2 linked regions of the Homo sapiens genome follow. The protein of the gene in region 2 purifies or fractionates together with the protein of the main gene of each other region. This does not show direct contact. Each region holds a gene or a part of one and is shown on either strand. Other genes may lie near its edges.

Region 1 (3,500 bases), on a different chromosome or scaffold from region 2:
TTTGAGGAAGAGAGGGCCGGGCGTGGTGGCTCACGCCTGTAATCCCAGCACTTGCGGAGGCCAAGGCAGGCGGATCACCTGAGGTCAGGAGTTTGAGACCAGCCTGGCCAACATGGTGAAACCCTGTCTCTATTCAAAATTCAAAAATTAGCCGGGTGTGGTGGTGCACGTCTGTAATCCCAGCTACTCGGGGGAGGCTGAGACAGGAGAATCGCTTGAACCCAGGAGGCAGAGGTTGCAGTGAGCTGAGATTGAGCCACTGCACTCCAGCTTGGGTGACAGAGTGAGACTCTGTCTCAAAAAAAAAAAAAAAGAAAAGGAAGTTTAAGGAAGAGGTTGTCAATAGTGTCAATGTGAAATTGGAATTTATAAGAATTGGGGAGTAGGCATAGGGAAATATTAATTAAATATTTTATAGTGAATTATTGATATTATTCTCTTGAGTTATTTAGACAGTATTTGCTATTTTGGGGACATGTTCCTTCCCCATTTAATCTTCTTTTCCTTTCTTTTCTTTGTTTCTTTTTTTTTTTTTGAGACAGGGTCTCACTTTGTCACCCAGGCTGGAGTGCAGTGGTGTGATTTTGGCTCACTGCATCCTCTGCCTCCTGGGCTCAAGCATTCCTTCTGCCTCAGCCTCCCAAGTAGCTGGGATTACAAGCGTGCACTGCCACGCCCAGCTAATTTTTTGTATTTTTACTAGAGTTGGGGTTTCGCCATGTTGCCCAGGCTAGTCTTGAACTCCGAGTTCAGGCGATTTGCCCACCTTGCCTTCCCAAAGTGCTGGGATTGCAGGGGTGAGCCACCGCGCCCGGCCCCTTCATTGAATCTTACGTTTTGGTCTTATAAGTGCCTTAAAGTATTTTATAATACGAGCAGATAGGAAAAACATTGGGAATGCCTCAGTTTTATTGTGAATGCATGGGATACTGGAAACAAATAGTTCTCTGTTTTTAAATCTGCGCTCTGCAGCTCACTGAAACGGTAGAGTGCCAGCGAATGGTAAACGAACAGGTGGTGAGGGGACTGGATCCTTGATCTCTCTTTGGGCCTCTTGCACTAACTCGCGGTTGAAATCCCTGAGAAGGACTAGGTGACCTTTAAGGGTCTTCCTAAATGCTGACATTCTATGCCTCTGGAGTTGATTTTTCTCAGGTTAGCTGAAGCATAGGTCCCAGCCTTCCACTGCTTTGGGTAGTTTGACTAAAGTAGAGAAGGGATTTTTTAAAAACATACTAGCCAGGCAGGCGTAGTGACTCGAACCTGTAACCCCAGCTACTCGGAAGACTGAGATGGGAGTATCACTTGAGCCAAGGAGTTCAAGGCTGCAGTGCGCTACGATTGTGCCACTGCACTGCAGTCTGGGTGACAGAGTGAGACGTTGTCTAAAAAAAATTTAAAATACACAAACTAAAAGTTTAAAATTGTTTATGAGAAATTGTTATTGTTTGTATAGAAGAGCTATTTTCATACCCTCTTTATTTTGGAAGTGTAAACCTTTGTATTTACTGAAGAGTCAACTAACTTGTCTTATTGATAGCTTCTCTTCATAAATTCTAGTAGTTGAACCTAGATGCTATCTAAGGGATTATTTGATTTGGTAAAATGAGATTGGTGATTTTTTTATTGTGTAAGTCATATCCAGCAAGTAGGCTGAGGATCTAAGGTAGTTTGTGTTTACTAAAATTTTTCATAAACTTTAGAGCTGCTAGGATTAAAGTTTCTGTTTTATGTAAAATATAATTCTTTTTGATGACAGCATTGCCCATATGAAAACTGTACATCTCAACTTTTTGGTATAAAAATATCAAATATAAACAAAAGTAGAGAAAATAGTTTGATGAACTTCCTTATACCCATCACCAAGCTTTGCCAATGATTAATTTATGGCCAGTCTAGTTTCATGTTTCTATTGCACACTCTCCCACTCCATCTCTGGATATTTCAAAGCAATTCCCAGATACCATTATTTTATCCATAAACGTTTCAGTATTATCTGTAAGATATAAGGATTTTTCTTTTTTGTATCTTTTGATGTTTTAAGAAGTCTGTTTGAGGAAATACTACAATTTAAAATTTTGGTCAGTGATGAAACGGTTGGCATTTATTTTTTAATGTTATTTATTCTGTTAGTATTCCATCCTGAAACTTCAGCCATTATTTGGAAATACTTGTGTTATTTTAAAATATATAACTTCGTTATTTAAAAACATACAGCGTGAAGTTTGGGTAATTTTTAATATTTAAGAAAAATAAAATTGTTATTTATTTGGTCTGTTTTTCATCTTTTTAGATACGTGCTTTTCAACATGCCTTCAGCACTAATGACTGCTCCAGGAATGTCTACATTAAGAAGAATGGCTTTACTTTACATCGAAACCCCATTGCTCAGAGCACTGATGGTGCAAGGACCAAGATTGGTTTCAGTGAGGGCCGCCATGCATGGGAAGTGTGGTGGGAGGGCCCTCTGGGCACTGTGGCAGTGATTGGAATTGCCACAAAACGGGCCCCCATGCAGTGCCAAGGTTATGTGGCATTGCTGGGCAGTGATGACCAGAGCTGGGGCTGGAATCTGGTGGACAATAATCTACTACATAATGGAGAAGTCAATGGCAGTTTTCCACAGTGCAACAACGCACCAAAATATCAGGTGAGAAACTGGGGTTTTTCTCAAGTATGGGCCTTTGTCAAATCACGCCTTAATTTGTTTTAAATTTACAAATTTTTATATAGCAGTTTTTGTCTTTTTGGTAATTTTTATTTTTATTATTTTTTTATTTTTTCAGATACCCAGACTTCAAGGAGATTTTTTTTTTTTAATGTTAGGGGGTTATAGTTAATTTTGTTGGGTGTTATATTTTGATTTTGGCTATGCAGAAAAATATTCTTTTTTTTTTTTTAGACAGAATCTCACTCCGTTGCCCAGGCTAGAGTGCAGTGGCGCCAACTCGGCTCACTGCAACCTGCACCTCCCAGGTTCAAGCAATTCTCTGCCTCAGCCTCAGTAGTTGGGATTACAGGCGCCCACCACCATGCCTGGCTAATTTTTGTATTTTTAGTAGAGACAGGGTTTCACCATCTTGGCCAGGCTGGTCTTGAACTCCTAACCTCGTGATTCACCTGCCTTGGCCTCCCAAAGTGCTGGGATTACAGGCGTGAGCCACCATGCCCAGCCTCAAGGAGATTTTTTGACCATTTTTAAATAAATGTATAAATGATCTATCTCAATATTTGTTTCCTAATACAACTTTAAGCAGCCTATTTTTGCTCCAGATCAGGGGTTGGCAAACTTTTTGTAAGGGCCACGTAGTAAATCTTTAAGTCTTTGCAGTCCATATGGTCTCTGTCACAACTTTTTTTTTTTAATGTCATTTTCAAGGTAAGGATCTATCACGAGTTTCAACTCTATTTATAGTACAAAAGCAGTCATCGATAATACGTAAATGAACGAACATGGCTGTATTCCATAGACCTTATTTATGGGCTGCAGGACAGATTTG
Region 2 (3,500 bases):
AAAAAAAAAAAAAAAAAAAAGGTAATAAAAGGTCCAGTCATATTTTTATTTTTTCAGACAGAGTTTCACTATTGTTGCCCAGGCTGGAGTGCAATGGCTCGATCTCAGCTCACTGCAACCACTGCCTCCCGGGTTCAAGCGATTCTCCTGCCTCAGCCTCCCAAGTAGCTGGGATTACAGGTGCCCACTACCACGCTTGACTTTTTTTTTATTTTTTAGTAGAGACAGGGTTTCGCTATGTTGGCCATGTTGGTCTTGAACTCCTGACCTCAGGCGATCTGCCCGCCTTGGACTCCCAAAGTGCTCGGATTACAGGCGTGAGCCACCGTGCCTGGCTGAGGTCTTTTTTTTTTTACTCTGAGTGAGGTGACAAGCTTTGGGAAGGTTTTGAGCAGAAGAGTGGCATAGTCTGATGAAATCTGGCTTACTTTGACCTCTGTATTGAGAATGAATGACGGCTTTGGAGGTAGTGAAAAATGGTTATAAAGGATCCTGGATATATTTTGAGGAATGAGCCAGTGGGATTTTTTGGATAGATTGGTTGTGAGGGAGGCCATCAAAGATGATTCTCAGATTTGTGATGTAAAGAATGGACAACAGGCCTTGCGTGGTTGCTCACACCTATAATCCCAGCACTTTGGGAGGTCGGTGAGGGTGGATCACCAGAGGTCAGGAGTCTGAAACCAGCTTGGCCAACATGGTGAAACCCCATTTCTACTAAAAATAAAAAATTAGCCGGGCGTGGTGGCAGGCACCTGTAATCCCAGCTACTCAGGAGGCTGAGACGGGAATCGCTTGAACCCGGGAGGCGGAGGTTGCAGTGAGGCAAGATTGCGCCACTGCAGTCCAGCGTGGGCAACAGAGCGAGACTCTGTCTCAAAAAAAAAAAAAAAAAAAAAAAAAGAATGGGCAAATGGTTACCATTTACCGAGAGGGACGAGACTGAGGAGAAATGTAACAGAGCTCATCTTTGGGTGTGCTAAGTTTGAGATAGCGATTAGACATCCAAATAGAATTCAGAGAGGTCTGGGTTAGAGATGTAAATTTGTCTCATTTAGTGAATATAAATAGGAAAAGAAGAAGAGGTCTGAAAAGTAAACCCGAGGCTTTCCTATTTAGAGATGGTGGTAGGGACTTTTGATATTTACTGTGCCTGGGCTTGAGAAAATAAGCCTTGGAGTGTTTTTGAACAGAGGAATAATGTAATCTGATTCATATTTTAAAAGGATCACTGTAGCTGCTGAGTGAGGCCTGGAATGTAAAGGGCAGAAGGTGCAGCAAGGAGACCATTTAGGAGGCCAGCTATTGCAGTTGACTAAGCTAGAGATTGGTGGGTTGGACAGGGATGATAATGGTAGAGGTGATAAGAAGTGATCTGATTCTAGATTGGTTAATTTTTATTTAGCTTTTATTCTATCTTATTTATTAATTTTTTTGAGACAAAGTCTCACTCTGTCTCAAGCTGGAGTGCAGTGGTGCAATCTTGGCTCATTGCTACCTCCGCCTCCCAGATTCAAGTGATTCTCGTGCCTCAGCCTCCTGAGAAGCTGGGATTACAGGCGTGCACCACCACACCTGTCTAATTTTTGTATTTTTTTTAGCAGAAATAGAGTTTCTCCATGTTGGCCAGGCTGGTCTCTTAACTCCTGGCCTCAGTCTCCCAAAGTGCTGGGATTACAGGTGTGAGCCACCATGCCTGGCCTCATTTTAAAATTTTCTGTAGAGATGAAAATTTTGCTATGTTACCCAGGCTGGCTTTGAACTCCTGGCCTCAAGTGATCCTCTTACCTCAGCCTTCCAAAGTGCTGGGATTATAGGCATGAGCTACTGCACCAGGCCTGATTCTAGATAATATTTAAAAGGTAGAATTGGCAAACTTTGCTCATTGGTTGGATGGAAGGTGCGGATAGTAGTAGTGTGTATTCCATATTTGCATAAAAGTTCTGTTGATGACTCCTCTTCAAGGATGTATTGTGTTTACATAATGTTTTGTGAGGTTTTTATATATTTTTTAAAGACATGGGATCTCACTATGTTGCCCTGGCTGGTCTCAAACCCTTGGGCTTAAGTGATCCTTTCACCTCGGCCTCCCAAATAGCCGGGACTACAGGTGTGTGCTTCTGCAACTGGTGTATTTACATAATGGCTGGGCAAGGGAAGATGGCTGAGAGTCAGGTAGCAGTCAGTGTTGAAATAACGTGAGTGCCAGGCACACTGCTAGATACAGTGGGGATAGAGAAAAGTGGTTTTTTTGTGTTTTGTTTTGAGACTTCTCTCTAAAAGACAGTAAATAGAGATTTTAAAATTTGAAAGTAAAATGAATTAAACCCTTAATATGTTTTATTTTTAATTAGGTCCAAACTAAATGACATGATAGATGCTATTCCAAAAAGTAAGAAGAATAAGAGATGTCAGTTGCACTCCTTAGATACGCACAAGCCAAAACCTTTGGGGTAAGTAGAATTGAATACCAAGAGGCTTTGTCATTGTTAAGATTATATATTTGATCATATTTAGTAAAAGAAATAAACCCACTGTTTGCTTTAATTCATTAATTGGTTATACTCTATGACATAGGTCAAAATAAATAGATCCTCTTGTTATGTTGGCCATTTTGCCTTGATATATATAAAGTCTCAATGTAGATCTGATTTAAAAAAATTTTTTTATGTTAAATATGTTTTAGAGGAGGGAGGTTGAAGTCTTTTTTTTTTTCTTTTTTTGAGACGGAGTCTCCCTTTATTTCCCAGGCTGGAGTGCAGTGGCACAATCTCAGCTCACTGCAACCTCCACCTCCCTGGTTCAAATGATTCTCCTGCCTCAGCTTCCTGAGTAGCTGGGACTACAGGTGCGTGCCACCACACCTGGCTAATTTTTGTATTTTTAGTAGATATGGGGTTTCACCCTATTGGCCAGGCTGGTCTCGGACTCCTGACCTCAGGTGATCGCCCACCTCAGCCTCCAAAGTGCTGGGATTACAGGTGTGAGGCACCACACTCGGCCGGTTGAAGTCTTTATGGAAATGTATGCAGCTAATATGAACGTTTTCAAAGTAGTGGTAATCATTATTTGATCTACAGAATAGTCATAATGTATAAATTATTTATCTTTCTTGTCTCTAGCTGTAATTTACCAAGGTTTTAAAAAAAGTAGTTATGACGATATTATGACAATATGTATTTATGTAACTAATTTGTAGTTTTCTATATTTATTATTATTTTTTGAGATGGAGTCTCCTCTGTCGCCCAGGCTGGAGTGCAGTGGCGTCATCTCGGCTCACTGCAACCTCTGCCTCCTGGGTTCAAGCTGTTCTCCTGCCCCAGCCTCCCGAGTAGTTGGGACTACAGGTGCGTGCCACCAAGCCCGGCTAATTTTTTGTATTTTTGGTAGAGACAGGGTTTCACCGTGTTAGCCAGGATGGTCTCGATCTCCTGACCTCATGATCCGCCCACCTCGGCCTCCCAAAGTGCTGAGATTACAGGCGTGAGCCACCGCGCCC

Evidence for each region. Proteins that work in one complex are often made in the same cells at the same time.
Region 1: the proteins of GGNBP2 (region 2) and FBXO45 purify together in Homo sapiens (affinity purification with western blotting, with the first as the bait; one study listed by BioGRID). This does not show direct contact.

What each region holds. Positions count from the first base shown.
Region 1 is NC_000003.12:196,575,160-196,578,659, forward strand, and holds part of FBXO45 (F-box/SPRY domain-containing protein 1), read left to right. Parts: intron 1-2,293; coding exon 2,294-2,650; intron 2,651-3,500. UniProt on the Homo sapiens protein: Component of E3 ubiquitin ligase complex consisting of FBXO45, MYCBP2 and SKP1. Functions in substrate recognition but also plays an important role in assembly of the complex.
Region 2 is NC_000017.11:36,558,419-36,561,918, forward strand, and holds part of GGNBP2 (gametogenetin-binding protein 2), read left to right. Parts: intron 1-2,354; coding exon 2,355-2,453; intron 2,454-3,500. UniProt on the Homo sapiens protein: May be involved in spermatogenesis.